Linked DNA regions of Homo sapiens: region 2 is linked to region 1. The links come from fine-mapping of genetic effects on gene expression. A gene starts in region 1. The other region holds a variant in brackets. All regions are shown on one strand. Distances are from middle to middle. Region 1 holds the start of HACD4 (3-hydroxyacyl-CoA dehydratase 4). Region 2 has its middle 12 kb from the start of IFNW1.

Region 1 (8,343 bases):
GTAATCCCAGCACTTTGGGAGGCTGAGGCAGGCGGATCACCTTTGGTCAGGAGTTCAATACCAGCCTGGCCAATGTGGTGAAACCCCGTGTCTACTGAAAATACAAAAATTAGCCAGGCATGGTGGCGGGCACCTGTAATCCCAGCTACTCAGGGAACTGAGGCAGGAGAATCACTTGAACCTGGGAGACAGAGGTTGCAGTGAGGTGACATCGTACCATTGCACTCCAGCCTGGGCGACAAGAGGGAAACTCCATCTCAAAAAAAAAAAAAAAAGAAAAAAGAAAAGAAAAAAAAAGAAAGAAAAGAAAAAGAAATACTTGATGACTAAGGCAACTTTTCTCACTGGAAAGGTGAGACAGCATAAGCCAGTCCATGGCTTGTGTTGCCAATGACATGTAATATGCCTGCACTGCCTCAGCAAACCTCAAAGGGCTAGAAGTGATGGCTTTTTAATAAAAATATAAAAGAAGTTTTCCCATCACCTGTGTTTTCCTGTGCTTGAAAACTCTCAACATTTGTAGTTGAAACTCAAGCTTTAGGTTATATCTTTGGAGGTCCTTAACAAAGGCGAGACTATATCTGTAGATTTTCAGTAAGAAAAAGCAACATAAAATAGCTTATGGGACCCTGCAAGTAGAATAACTTCCTTATGATACACACGTCTGAAATGATGAGCACAGCATGACTTTTCCCAGCTACATTCTAAACATTTGTTTTTAGCTGAAGCCAGCAGTTGCTTAGATTGTCAAGTCACTCAACAGTTGTAAACTGTGAGGACACTTACCCACGTGCGGATGGAACATGAAGAGAATGTTATTTTGATAGTCATTTAGTCACCCAACAGTGACTTTACTTTTCAGGAAACTAGAGGAAGTTTATGACTTAAACCATTAATGCTGACTCCTATATAAGTGGTTAGCCCTCTACAAAGTGTGTCATTTACATATTACTTCTTAAAGGGACCAAATAGAGGCTTGGGGAATATAAAATTTGTATTTCACTTACTAGTAGTCTCCAGTTACCTCAAACCTGGGGAATAATACAAACACTGGAAGAATTTGATTCATTCCTGATTTCTCTGCATAAAATGTTATGCTGAGATTTCCTCAAAACACTAGAAATCTGCTAAGGTTTGGTACAGAATGGAAAAGGAACAATGAAATGATACCACCTCAGTGCCATCCATCTCTTTTTTGAGGCAAACTGCCAACTCAGGGGGAAGCCAAATCCCTTTCCCTTACTTATCCCACCTTCCCCCTTCCCCAAGAAGGTTTTGCAATAAACATGGTTGCTAAAAAATACAAATTTTAGAGAAGGATATTAGAAGGTTGAGGTGTGTAGAAATTTAATATAAGCAGGATGAGGTGAAAACAAGGATTAAAAGTTAAAAATAAAAAAACTGTTTCGGAGTTTTACCTTTTCCAAATGAAAAGAATCTGACTGTCATATTTGTAAATATCCAAGAGTGGCCACAGAACTGGATTAAGTAATAGATGAAAAGATACGCATTCTTCCTATACCTATAAATACAGGAAAATACCATTAAACACTTCTTTTATAATCATCCTTTCATCACTGTACACATGCCCTTTAATGTACTGGCCAACCTGAGAAAGCAAAAGAAAACTGTTTCATATCAGTCTTTTATCTGGTTACCCCCAAGTACATATCAGATTTTGAAGGGAGCCATAACCTACACTACCCGCTAAAGTAAATACAGATGCTTCTTCACTTATGATGAAGTTACGTCCTGGTACACCCCATCAGCTGAAAATATCATAAACTGAAAATATCATAAGTTGAAAATGCATGTAATACAACTGATCTACAGAACATCACAGCTTAGCCTAGTCTACCTTAAACTTGCTCAGAACACCTACATTAGCTTACAGTTGGGTGGAATCATCTGGCAACACAGTGCACTGTGGAGTACCGGTTGTTTACCTTCCTGATCATGCGGCCGACTGGGAGCTGCGGCCTGATGCCGCGGCCCAGCATCATGAAAGGATATCATACCTGCACATCGCTAGCCTGGGGAAAGATTAAAATCCAAAATTTGAAGTACGGTTTCTAATGAATACATATCATTTTCACACCATCACAAAGTTTAAAAAATTGTGAGTCATGGACCATCTGTATAGTGAGTTTGCTTAAAACCAAATATAGTGCTTTTTCAAAATCTGCTTTCATCTTTGATAAAGTTCTAACCTTGCTGCTCACCAAGGAATAAAAGAAACCACTGCGAAGGTGGCTTTGAATATTCTTTAAAAAAACAAAACAGGCTGGGCGCGGTGGCTCAGGCATGTAATCCCAGCACTTTGGGAGGCCAAGGCGGGTTGGATCACTTGAGGCCAGAAGTTCAAGACCAGCCTGGCCAACATGGCAACTTACAAAAAAAAAAAAAAAAAAGCCGGATGTGGTAACGTATGCCTGTAATCCCAGCTACCTAGCTGCTCAGGAGGCTGAGGCAGGACAATCACTTGAACCTGGGAGGTAGAGGCTGCAGTGAACCGAGACAGCGCCACTGCACTCCAGCCTGGGCGACAGATCAAAACTCTGTTCTCAAAAATAAATAAAAAATAAAAAACAAAACAACAACAACAACAAAAAATCCATGTGTGCAGAGTGGTTGACATGTCACTATGTGTTCCAGTAGCTCAGCTTGCTAAGTGCAGAACTTGAGACACAGTGTTTTAGTTCTGAAGGGGGGTAGGGATGGGAGTAATCCAAATGTTGGGTAATTCAGTAATTGGACACACCTGACTTTTGAACACATTATGTGATTGAGGTTAGTATTAACATCTTGCCACTGCCTATTAACATTTTGCAAGGGTAGATAGTTTCCTTCATCAGATACATATCGAAAGCAGTTTAGTTGCTCATACCAGAAGAGGGAAGTCAAGCTGGGTTTAACAATGTGTTGTGAGTTGCTGGGGAGATGACTAAGAGAAGATTGACAGATAGATGGTTTGAGGGAGTTAGGAAAAGCACTGTTTGAAATGTTCCCTGGGAGTTCAGAAGAGTGACGGGAGTGGCCCTGCCAGTGTGGTCAAGATTTACTCCTCCTTGAAGATGTGAAACCTCCTAGAAACAAGGAAAATAAGCTGGGAGGCAGAATGATTTTTATTTGGGGACATCCTCCCCTATAAAGGCAGGAACTGCTAAAGGGTTTGGGAAGAGGAAATCCTCCTTCAGCTTGTATCAGAATTACCTGGCTTGTGGGTTAAACATATACACCCCCAGGCCCTACCGCTATATGACTGAATCTGTTCCCCGCCGGAACTAGGCCCTGAAATCTATACGTGTGATAGGTGTTTCCACGGCTGTTACATCTAAAAATCACCCCGCAACTCTGCGTCTGAGAAAGTCAAGAGAAGGCTCCTGGGGGGAGGGAAGTACTGGCAGAGGGCTCACAAGGGCAGGGGTAGCCATGCAGCCTGTCCTTCCCATTCAACTGTAAAATGGAGAAAATAACAGAGCCTGCTTCCTAGGGTGGTCAAGAGGGGTAAGTTAGCAAATACCTGCATGAGCTCCAAGGGGTGCCTGGGCACGGTAGCGCTGCGCCTTGCTGGCGGGCGGGGGGTGCCGCCCGCCCGCCCGCCGCAGAGGGGAGCTCCCGCCTCCAGGCCCTCCACCCGCGCCCCCTCCCCTCGGGATTCGGCCGAGCGCCCTACCTGGGCTGCAGCCAGGCGGGCAGCGCCAAGGGCCCCATGGGCCGCCGCCGCCAGGGCTTCCAGCGCGGTCCAGGAAGGAGTACCGGGGAGGAGGCAGGGGCGGCCCCGCGGCTGGGCGCGGAAGGGCGGGGCCTCTCCACACTCAGCAGTTTACAAAAAGAAAAAGCCCGAGGTCGTGCGTTGGGGAAGAGATGAAAACGAAGTTCTCGAAGTTTCTGCAGCACTGCTAGAGCGCGTCAGGGCGCAAGGCTGGGAGGCGGCTCGCGTTCCCGGTGGGGTTACCAAACTCTGGTTACAGCTTCCTAATCTTTGTGTTGAGACCCCCTTGCAAGCCTTCTGGAAATTAATGCATCTGGGCGATTTCCGGGGCCTCCGAACTCGCTGAAGCCCATCCCCAAACCTCCCGAGATGAGTGGATTCCAGGGTGGGCTCTGCTCAATGCCCACCGGTGAGCCAGGTTCAGACACGAAGCTTGTGCCGGGCGCAGTGGCTAATGCCTATAATCCCAGCACTTTGGGAGGCCGAGGCGGGAGGATCTTTTGAGCCCAGGAGTTCGAGACCAGCCTGGGCAACATAGCGAAAACGCGTCTCTACTAAATGTACAAAAATTAGTCGGGCATGGTGACGCGGGCCTGTGGTCCCAGCTACTCCAGAGGCTGAGGTGGGAGGATCGCTTGAGCCTGGGAGGTCGAGGCTGCAATGAGCCAAGATCACGCGGCTACACTCCAGCCTGGGTAACAGAGCGAGATCCTGTCTCAAAAAATAAATAAAAATAAAACGAAGTTTGTAGCACACCTCCCCAACACTTTTTCAGCTAGGGGCCTGATTCCTCTTCTATCAGGCCTCCCTGCTCTCTAATCTCCCTTGGGTTCTCACTGGTGCCTGCAAATCTTTATTCACGTTGTGTTAATTTCTCTAGCCTATGCCCAGCACTGCTACAACCCCTTCGTGATCTCTCAGGCTTATGACATCACTGTCTCCGTACACAGATGACCCACCCTCCTGCTTTGCTAATAAGATCCAGCCCATCTTCAAGCTCCTCTGCCCAGAAAGGGAAACGTTAAAACAAAAACAGAAACATCTAAGAAGGCACTTGCAAGTAAGTGGGACAATGGCACCTGGTTTTGGAGTTGGAAGTTAGCGCCCCCATTTTTACCAAAAGGGAAGTTGAGGCATTAAAAAAATGTTAAGTCACTTGGCACAGGTCACACAATTGATAAAATGGCAGTATCAGAACTTCAAGGTTGGTGGGATTTCTTGTTTGTTTCCCATTAGGCCGTGGCTTCCTTTTTTCATAGTCCATTCCATTCACTATGCCTACCTCTCACCTCTACATTTCTCTGCACCTTCTCTCATACCCTGCCCTCAGTCGGAGGTTAACCCCAACTTTGTGTTTACCAGTCCCTTCTCAGACTCACTGCATCAGTAGTTAACCATCGCCTCTTCTTGCATCGTCATCCCCTCCTTTCCATTGGCTTTCACTGCACTTTAGGGACATAGACAACTCTCTCTTAGCATATAATTAAACATTGTATTCTTTCTGTTTCTCTCTCAATGGAATCTTCTAATAACTCCCTGCCTGCCTTCTCTGATCAGGTGCTTCTTTCATTTCCTACCATCTTCCTGTTCCATAATACCTTACAGTTTGACTCTCCTGACACTGCTCCGTCCGCGAGCATGTTAATTTTTCGCCGAATCCCTATCCTGTATCACCTTGCAGGATGATGCCCCACGGTCCTTGCTTTTACAGAACATTTGATCTAAAGGGTAAACTGGTGGCTAACCCATTATCAATGCTATCTCTGATCAGGTTAAGCAGCAAGAGAGAAAGTAAAGTCCCAGATGGCCTGCAGTGGGGCAGGAGGGAGAAGGTGGAAAGCCTGCCCAGAAGAATTGATCCTTTGTCACCAAACACAGCCCCTGCATCCACATCCTCATTGACAGGTCTGCTGCATTTTACCAGTTCTGTCTGTCTGCCATTTACCCCTGAAGTTCTACATATTCTACGTCTCTTGCCTTATGTCCCTTCTGTCTCTCTGGATGGGTCTTCTTCTCCTGCTGTATTTCCTCAAAAGTCTGCCCTTAGTCACCATCCATTTGTCACCATGTTATCCCTCAGCATAGACAACCACACATGGCTTTATCTCCATGTGGACAACTTTTGACTATTATTTTCAGCCCTTTCTTCTTTTATGAATACTATCTCTGGCCTTTGAGCAGCTTTTGGATATTTCCTCATGAAAGTCCTATTGTTTGGACTATCTTTGGAACGTCTTCCAATTCAACCTATTTAAAATAAGCATACTATCTCTCTTCCTAAATCATTATTTCCCACAGAAAGACCACCATTTTTCTAGCCACTTGATTTTAAATTGGGGAGTCATCATTAAGCACCCCATCCAATCAAATTCGATTGATCCCATCCTTTCCAGATCTCCTACTAATCAGTAGTGTTCTTTGTCCATTCCTTATTTTCCAGTACCTGGGTGAGGAGTAATTGGCCTCCCTCACATCCATTCTTTACATCATAACTCAGTTGACTTTCTGGAGCGTCTTGGGTTATATCTTTCTGCTGCACAAAAAGAGGCCCTTTTTAGTTGCCAAAAAAGAACAAGCCAATCAGTCGAAAAATAAAAAATCCTTTCAAATCAAGCAGTTAGCTGATTCTACGTTATTTCCCAAGGAAAGAGTACAAAAAGAGCTTAGGAGAGAACATTTTGTATGAAAAGTGAAATTCTCCCTTTCCCCTGGTCAGTTCCCAGTCCTGCCCACGTCCTGCCAGCATTATCAAGATGGCCTCCCCCAGCCTCCCTGCCTCCAATCTCTTTCCTCCTTCTACCCAGACTGCCATAGATTATTTAAGGATGGCAAAAATATTTCTTAAAACACAGTTCTGATGTAGCCATTCTCCTGGTCTAAATCTTTTGCTGACTCCCCGTTGCCTGCTACAGTATATCTCTTCTTGCCCCTAAACCTGTCACATGCTGACATCTCCTACCATCCTATCCCCTTACCAAAAATCACAGCAACCTGCTGTTCCATGACCACACCAGGCATTCTCTGGCCAATGTGCCTCTGTGAAAAATTTCCCGTCTACTTTTTCTATTCTACCTCCTCCCCTTATCACAGCCCAGTACTTACCTGTCAAAATTCTATTCATTCTTTAAAAGCCTTCCCAAAGATCCCCTCTGGGAGTCACATAGGCTAACGTATGTCTATGTTGGTATTTATCTTAGGGTATTGTTGTTGTCAAGGTACTTGACTATTTAACTAGATTATAGATTCTCAGAGGCTTCTCTCTCACTAACAGTGAGAATTTGACAACTTTTAACCTTTAAAAATGAAGTTTCTTTTGCCAAAAGCACACAGTTATTAGAAAGATCAAATAATAAAATTTATAGATGAAAATGGATAAAAGCCCCTAGTACAGTGCTTGGCATAGTAAGTATCCATAAATATGTTGGATGAATGAATTAAATCTAGTATGAGTTTTCTATTCCCAAAATTTTAACCCAAAACAAAACATTCAGTGATAGTTACATTACTGAAGTATGTATATTCAACTTTCAGTTATCCACTGGTACAGAAGAAGTCAGAGTCCAAGATAACAACTGAATTAATATATTCTAATCTTTAGAAGAAATTTTAAAATTATTCGAACATGTCAATTTTGTTTTCCTTGGGCAAATGCTTCAATTTGTTTTCATCCCAAAGAGCACCATCTGGGAGGCTAAAACCTTGAAATATATTTCATGGCAGTAACAGACTGGCTACAAAATAAATTCTTTTTTATTTTCAGCACCTTGAGTTTTCAGAGGTCACTCCTCTCCCTCAAAGAAAACACAGAATAAAACTCTTTGTGACCTTGGGTTAGGTAGAGATTTCTTAGGTATTTCATCTAAGAAGCCCTCTTAGATAGCTAAGCAAGCATTTCTTAGCTACTTCTGGCCTTCAAAAGACACTTTCAAGTGAGTGAAAAGAAGCTATATAGTAGAAGAAAATATTTAAAAATCGCATAACTAATAAAGAACTTGTTTGCAAATATATACAGAACTCTCAAAACTCAATAATTGGAAGACAATAAACCCCCCCAAAATAGGCAAAAGATTTGAAAACACACATAACCAAGTAAGAGACAAAGAAAGAACATAAAAGTATGGTCAAAATAATTAGTAATTATGGAAATGAAAATAAAACCACAATGAGATATCGCTACACACTGATAAAGATGGCTAAGATGAAAAAGAGTTAACCACCACAAGTGTTAGTGAAGATGTGCCACAATGGGGATTCTCATAAGCAGCTTTATTTTTAATAGCCAAAAACTGAAAACAACCCAAATTTCCATAAACAGATGAATGGATAAATAAATTATGGCATAACTGTACAATGAAATCCAACTCAGCAGTAAAAAGAAGTGAACTACTGATACAAGCAATAACATGGATGAAATTCAAAATAATCAAACTGAATGTCAGAAGCCAGAAAAAAAAAGAATAGATACTGTATGATTCTACTTATTTAAGGCTCTAGAAAGTGGAAACTAATCATCACTGATAGAAGGAAAATAAGTGGCTGTCTGAGGATAGATAGTGAAGAGGAATGAAAAAAGGGAGGGATTGCAAAGGAGCATGAGAGGTGGAAATGTTAATTGTTTTGCTTGTGGT
Region 2 (8,343 bases), 120 kb after region 1:
GAAAGTCTACAGTGAGTGAGCCCTGGTTGGGGAGGGCTGTGGGTGGGTGCTTGCCAGCAGGGGCCCACTTGCAGTTCTCTGACTATTAGGTAGGGTCTGTTGGTGAAAGAACTAAGGCAGTGCCCACTGGCAAGTGCCTCGGCTTGGCAGCAGAGGCCATGCTGAAAGTGGGTGTAGACAGGCAGTGTCCCTGGGATAGGCTGGCAGAGCGTGGGGTGCTCATATTGGACTGGCCCATCCCATGGGAAAGATAGCCCTGTTCCATTCAGGTCCAGCAGCCAAAAAAGGCTAAAGCCACCTAGAGGAGCATGTGAGCCTTGGGGAATGAGCTGTGCTCCATTGCACCTCTTCCTACACAAACCCTCGGCTCCACGCAGGCTGGAGTTCTGTCTTTTTCAACTCTCCAGGTAGCTATCCCTGCCATCTCAAATGTCTGTGGGGGTTATGGGGTCTCCTGAAGCTAGGGTTCCAGAGGTCTGTGACAAGAATGGCTCACTGTATGCCTATTTTACTCACCCCTTCCCCAGAAGCTGCTCCAAGTCAGGAATGAGTCCTGGAGCTTGGCAACCTCATGCAGGGTTCCCAACTCCCTCCCCTTTCAGCCCTGGGTCTGCATCATCCCTCCGTCCACTCTTCATGCCTTCTTTCCAAAGATCTGTTTAAAATGTGCCAGTCTACTTGATGATCTGGTCTTTCTTGGTGAGAGAAGTTCTTCCTGGCTGTATCTAGTTGGCCATCTTGGTTCTCTCTCTGTCTTTCAGAAGTTTTTCGTGATCCACCAACTTAGGACAATCAAATCCTTCATGACCTAGAACCTAGAGTCTGTGTCTTTTAGAAATGACATCAGAGGAATATTGACTTTGAACTACATTTTAAGGGACGATACCAAGTTCTTCTTATCACCTACACTGCAGTAAACCTTCAAGGCCTCAAACCTTTCATCCACATCTCACAACTCAAAAAAATTCCTTCAGATTCTTGGAACTGCATACCTAATTTCCTGCTGTCCTAATCATTTCTCATTTTTGTTGTACAGGAACGTCCACGCGACCATAATCAGTGCAAGCTTTCACTTAAGCTTATGCTGTAACACAAATCCAGAGCAATTGTTGGGTTTGTGGGCTACTACCAAAAAAAGTCAGAAAACAAATCTACTAATGCCAATGTCTGTGTTCTCAATGAGACTCACACTGACACTTCAAAGGAAGAGTGAAAAGCTAATCATGAAGCTCTGAACATCACTGTTACTTGATTTTTTACACTCAGTAGAAACAGCACTCTAACATTTCCAATTAATAATCTGATCATTACCAAATATAGAAAGCATATTCAAGTGTTGCCTGAACAAAAGTATATTTTGCTTCCAGGTAATGCATGTTTGAGACTTAGGAATTACCCATGTTGGTAAAAATAATTGCTTGTATAATGTCACCAGATTAAATCAAATAAAGTCCTTTTTCAGCAAATGTGGTTATATACCCTTACAGATTGCTATAAATAAACCACCAAAAAAAAGTAAATTTCCATTGGGCTTTGTCAGTAGCTATGAAGATTTACGGGTAAACAAATTTAACTGATCCTTGCTCAAACACAACTAGGTTTTCCTTTTTCCAACCACTGAAGGCTGGGTCTGTGGAGAATCTGCTTATTCCATTCTGCCTCCTCACTAGTTTGAATCATTCTATTTGGCTTGGCTCACTCCTGCCTTTGGATTAACTTTCCCTGAATGTCCCCATAATAGCTCATATGATCAGAGGCCAAAATAGTCAATAACCAGAATTAATTAACTAACCTTCAAATAGACAAAGACAAGCTAGTTTCCCTAGTGGGACTCCTGGGGTCTTGTTCTTGGTGGTAGTTGGGTACTGATTATGTAAAATTGGAAGCTAATCTTTAATTTGGGAAAAATCTTGAATTTTGTAGACAATCAAACCTTCCAGGGTTTCACATGGGTATAAGCCACTCATTGAAGGATAGATAAGAACATATATCTTCAACCAAAACACTTAGTGAAACATCATGTAGCTTTAGATCATTTTGCCCAAGTTGGAGGCTTATGTTTGGTATTGAAAAAAACTGAATACTGTACCTATCTTTCCCCTGAGTTTGTTACTATAGAAAGATTAGAAAGGTGACTAATACTGCTGTTTTCTTAGACTTTGCCACCAAACACATTAAGAAAATTTCGTAAGAGAAAGAAACACATAATGTATTTGTATATGTTTTGAGGTAGGGTCTTGCTCTGCTGTCCACACTGGAGTGCAGTGGCATGATCATAGTACACTGGAGCCTCAAACTCCTGGGCTTGAGGAATCCTCATGCCTCAGCCTCCCAAGTAGCTGGAACTAGATGTGCATGCCACCCTACCTGGCTAACTTTTTTTTTTGTATTTTTTAAACATAGGAATATGATCTCACTTTGTTTCTCAAGCTGATCTTGAACTCTGGGTTTCAAGCAATCCTCCCACCTTGGTCTTCCAAATTGCTGGAATTACAGATAAAAGCCACCACACGCAGCCCACATAAAGTGTTTATGGGAGCAACTAACAGTTGGTTTGCAGGCAGCCTAAATAGGGGATGGCAAGGTTGGGTTTTCCAAGGTTTTCTAATCTTTCTATTTCTTCTAGTGAGTCTTCAGGTTATTATGACTTGTGTTACCAGACTATCAACAAAAGTGGGTACCTCTTTAAATCAGGCCTATTTATGGTGAATTATAGTTCTTAATCACCATCACACCCTTAAGACAGACTATGAACAATTAGACTCAAATACTGCTTAACTGCCTAGATTGCCTGCACTTTGACTTGTTTGATTTGGTTCAGTTTATTTCACAAGGACTTTTGTTAAGGAGTACCCTTTGGGTTTTTGAAATTATCCTCTTGATAGTCATCATAATATTCCCCGTGGTGCACTGTATCCTCTCCAGTCCTAAATGTTTTGTATGCAGCCATCCATTGAGCATTTAATGATCTTTAACTAGATCAGCAAGAACATAAAGAATGTTTCAACTAATGTGTTGTTGAGACTTGTGAATTTCATACTGAGACCAAAGACGTCCATTTAGAATGATAACAGAGAGTGGCAACAACACCCAAAGTTATGGTCAATTTCTCAAAATTGAGAGGCTGACCACAAAGAAAAGTTTATTAAACTAAGTTTAGCCTGAGTGAGCTTCTGTACTCACGTAGTTCTTACGTAATGAATTGTAATGTAACTTAGTACCTAAATAATCTGAAAGCCTAATTTGGAGTATACTTCTGTAATGAATAGCTGAGTCCCAGCCAATCATCACACTTGTGCTTCATTCAATCACAGGTGGCTGCTTATTCAAACCATGTTCAAATAAGGCTAATGCCAAGCTATAACCAATCTAGCTCTTTATATACCTCACTTCTTTTTTTCTGTATATCACTTTCCTTTTTCTGTTGATAAATGTAATCCAATCATGGGGCAGCCTCAAAGTTTCTCTGAACATGTTCTGCTCTGAGAGCTGCCCCATTTGCAAATCAGTTTTTGCTCAATTAAACTCTGCAAAATGTAATTTGTGTAAATTTTTTCTTTTAACTCTGGATATAATTGGGATATAATTACAGAGTTTTTCAGGGTAAGGTGAGAATGCAGAGCGAAATCATGCAATGTTTGCCCACTGAACATAAAATGAC[A/C]AACAACAAAAAAGTAAAATTACATTAGAGAAATAAGCAGCATAAAGAAATAACCAAAGAATTGAAGGGGTCATAATATTTGAAAGGTGTTAAACAATGAGAGAGAGAGAGACAGAGACTGACCCAGGTGAATCCAGAAATATATTTTTTGTTGCGTGCTCCTGAACTGAGCCCCTATAAACAGTGGACAAAGAAAGAAAGGCAAGGATAAAAATATTGTCAAATATTATAACTTTGAGTTTCCCAACTCATCCCTTCTCCCATCTAGCAAGAAGAAATCTAAACATTGGGTTTGTAATGTGAGCAAACATTTGGAAGATTCCTCCTCCATTGAAGCCCCTTCCTGCTAGCTGAGCAATTCACACAAACTTCCTGATTAACTTCTTCAATTACAACATTGCACAAACTTATGCTTCCTAAATTTTACCCAATGGACCACATGCTTTCATTTGGCAATTATTGTATTCTCTGAAATTCCTTCACTTATGTCTTGCTGTATCTTACTACTACTGGACGGGATACAAGTCTGTCAAAATTCAAACAACAATGAGAATTTCTCCTAACTACAAAGTCAAGTGACATGATCTAATAGGAGTGAATTTGTAAATTAGCAAGGTATTTTTTTAAAAAGAATTAATGTAATATCAAACAAGAGGTTTTTCTTTATTTTCCTTGCAGTTCTATACCTAGATGGGCAGGCTGTACTTATTCCTAGTGTAGCTCAATACGTGGAGGGAGGGATGAGTCAGGAGGCCCTGGAAGCCTGAGCAGGCTGGAGGCAAGGGACACATCCTGACCCTTTCTGTCTCCACATAGCTGCCCATTGCCCAAAAAAGAGGACGGGTCCTGCTTGAAGCTGGCATTATTTCCCCTCTGTAAGACACAAAGCTAAGGAAATGAACTTTCAGAATTGAGGTCAGTTCTTTTCAGGAAAGAGCTCATTTTAGCTCTGTAGAAAAATCTTCTGCCAGGGAACAGGATTGTGTGTAGAAGAGAAGGCTGCTCGCCAGACTTGGCTGCTGTTTCTGTCAGTCACGATCAGTAGGTGGCTCTCTTCCTCTGTAAATCTTTTGATAACCCCCAGGGTAAAATGGATCCTGCCCTCTGTTTCCTTTTTGCTGCAACTACTATTACATCATTGTAACAGTAATATTCCCTTAATTCCAAAAATATTTACCAGGAGAGAAAAAGGCCTCTCATACGTGAGTTTCTGAAAAACCAAAAATTTGCACTCAACTATTGCTTTCAATTGGTAATTGTGTACACTTTAGGGGGAAATTGACAGCCAGAAACCACAATGGAAGAGAAAGCAGCTATATGACTGGGCAGTGCAGGTTAATGAGGAGTGAATGTAGAGGGCACACTGAAGATTTCTACACTGGAGAGGGAGGAAACTATTATGATATGGGAATGAAAGAATGGGAAAGAGGGAGGAAAGAAAACTGGCAGGCAACAGAATTAGCAAATGAAATATATGTGTGTGTGTGTGTGTGTGTGTGTGTGTATGCACACAAATGTGTATAGGCATTTATATACACACATATATACACATATCTGTATATATTATGTATTACCTACTATATATTATATGTATTATGTACTATATATTATATACTCTGTAATATATTGTTAAAATATATATTATTATAATATATATTGAAATAAGTTATACATAATATAATAATATATAATATATATACACTTTTAACTTCAGTTTAGGAGACTAATCCATGCACCAGATACTTACAAACCATCAATTTTTGATTAAATATTAATCACATATCTTCAGTGTCAAATGGTATCTAATTTTGAGTCTTCTTCAGAACTCCCATTTCTCTTTTTTCAGACTGTCAGCATTTTGCAGCCGCTTACAGACAGTGGAATAGGAGAGTTGACTATTCTTATATAGATCTGTATGAATCAATAAGAAAATAGTCACCATCTCTTAAGCACTCTGGAAGATACTCTGCTAAGTGCTTTAAAATGTTTTAGTTTTTCTGATACAGAAACTCCAGGAATATTTCCATCTTATTTTACATTTGTGAAAACTGAGGCTCAGAGGGGTTAATTGAATTACCCAGGATCACAGATGTGTCCTGGCTGAATCTAGATTCAATGCAGAATTCTATATTGCGTAAGTAATTACTTAAATTTTATAGTTTGAAATTCTGATACATTTTAATCCCCAAATTATACACTCTTGCTCATTAGCCATCTTTCATTCATGGATGCTGTTGTATATTTAAACTGATTTTCACCCTATATTGCTCTTTAATTTTGATACTGGGGAAGAGAAATATTCTGATCCAGTTTCACTTTTCCATCTTATAAAGGAACTGTCCCAGATTGTTATGTTCATTGTAAATTGATTATTTGTGAATCCCTAAGAGTTAACAGTTTTTATGAAATCATTGTTCTACTTATAGATCAAGTCTTAATTTAGTCAGAAAGAAAGGAAGTGATAGAGAAGAATAATGAGAATAATAAATATTTCTTTTTTGTTTTTTTTTTTCTTTTAGACAGTGACTCACGCTGTTCCCCAGGCTGGATGGAGTGCAGTGGCATACTCATGGCTCACTGCAGCCTCGACCTCCTGGACTCAAGCCATTCTCCTATTTCAGCCTCCCTAGTAGCTGCTACTAAGGACATGTGCCACCATGCCCAGCTAATTTTTTTTTTTCTTTTGTAGAGATGGGTTTTTTTCCATGTTGCCCAGGCTGGTCTCAAACTCCTGGCTCAAGCAATCTGCCTACCTTGGCCTCTCAAAGTGCTGAGATTATAGGTGTGAACCACTGCACTCAGCTGAGGCATGTTTTTAAATAACAGTAAAAACAATGTGATAAAAAGAAACCTAGGTAACCAGATTATTAAAACACATGATTCCTAAAAAATATTATATTATAGTGGTAATTAAATTTAGGAGAAAGAACTTATCTGATATTAAAATGGTAAAAGTGATATTCAATAAAATGGCTCTAGGGTGATCGTGATTACTAACAATCAATGCAAAGTCTCCTGTCAAGTGATAGATGAAAATATGATCTTGATGGAATACAGGACAGACATAAGATTAGATTTTTTGAAAGAGAATTTGTACAGTACAAGTTTTATTAACTATTTATTATGAAGGCTTGAGCTTATCCTACTACCTTAACAATGACATAACTGACAAAAAAATATATGCAGCATAATTTTACAGAAATTGGATGACAGACAGCTCTGGAATGTGACCCTAATGCAAACAAAAAAACAAACAAACAAAAATCTTGTGTTTCACAATTAACCTACTCTCCTCCTGGAGGTTTAGTGAAGAAAAGAAATAGAAGATATAAATAAAAATCAATATTAACTTTTTGAGATGAAAAATGCAGTACTTTAAATGAGATAATTAAGTGTAGAGGTAAAGCTCAGTTACTTTAAAGGCATAGCAGTAGAATCTGTCAAAAAGGAGGCATGGAATGAAATGAACCTCTGATACTTGGAGTACCAGAAGAAGGAAGAGGAGAGTTAATGAAAATATTTGAAGAAATAATATCTGGTGATTTTCTGAATTAGATTAAAACAAAACAAAAAAATTTATGAATTCAAGAAGCTCAATAAATTTCAGGCAGCATAAACATGAATATATATTTAAAACCACAACAAAACACATCATTATAAAATTTCTGAGAACAAGTGATAAAAATCTTAAAAGCAGTTACCAATAAAAAACACATTACATATAAAGAAAGATAAGAATGCTTTCAAACATCTCATTAAATAGCATGCAAGGTAGATGCCAATTAAATGGCATGTTTAAAAGTTGAAAGGAAAAAATAACACCAAACTTGTTAACCTGGAATGTTATATCCAGCAAATATATACTTCAAAAATGAAAGTAAAATTAAGACTTTTTCAGGGAAATGGAAATTGAGAGAATTATCACTACCAGAACTATACTACAAATATTGTTTTAAAATGTTCTTCAAGCAGAGATGAAATTATATCAGATGAAAGCTTGGAGCTACACAAAATAATGTATGAGATTGTTTAATAAAAATAAAAAATTTATTCAGTGATACAAAACACATGTAGCATAATAAATACAGCACAATAGCTCAATGTCTAGGTAGTGTATGATAATTTAAAATATGTGATGAACGCTACAGAAAAACTAAAAACAAAACAGACTAGAAGAATAGCTGATAAAATGATAGTGGAGATGAGGGAATTATTAAAACGGTAAACTAATTTAGGAGAAGGCAAGAAATTAAGAAAGAAAGGAACAAGGACCACAGGAAGAAATAAAATAAGCAAGATGGGAAACATACACCCAAACATATGCATAATTAGATTAAATTTTTATTGTCTAAACTTTCCACTAAAAAAGTAGAGATTGCTATACTGGGAAGACAAAAGCAAAACAAAAACCAAAAACCAAGCAAACAAAAATAAGACTCAAACAAAAAGATCCAACTTTATATATAAAAACACAGGTTACAATTAAAGATGGAAAAATTATACCATGAACACACTACTCATTAGAAAGCAGAAATGACTATATTTTGTTATACATAGTAAAATGGTTACTGTATGTAATGTGTTCTTCTACAGACTTCTTTTGGACACTAATATAGATCATATGCTGGGTTATAAACAAGTTTCTGTATAATGAAAAGAATTAAAATGATAGAGTATGCTGT

Evidence for each region.
Region 2: its variant is fine-mapped to the expression of HACD4 in CD4 T cells (BLUEPRINT, PIP 0.95).

The regions. Positions count from the first base shown.
Region 1 is chr9:21,027,877-21,036,219 of GRCh38, forward strand. HACD4 (3-hydroxyacyl-CoA dehydratase 4) reads right to left here and starts at 3,764. Exons shown (of 7, transcript NM_001010915.5): 1 at 3,677-3,764; 2 at 1,419-1,522. The coding sequence starts at 3,714. LOC105375989 (a long non-coding RNA gene) reads left to right here and starts at 3,766. Exons shown (of 3, transcript XR_007061435.1): 1 at 3,766-4,124; 2 at 4,596-4,775; 3 at 5,487-6,043. RefSeq lists a silencer at 3,540-3,899 and an enhancer at 3,543-4,103.
Region 2 is chr9:21,149,461-21,157,803 of GRCh38, forward strand. No RefSeq gene overlaps it. Among named protein-coding and RNA genes, the nearest start is that of IFNW1, 12 kb to the left of the region's middle. The variant A/C (reference allele first, on the strand shown) is at 3,662.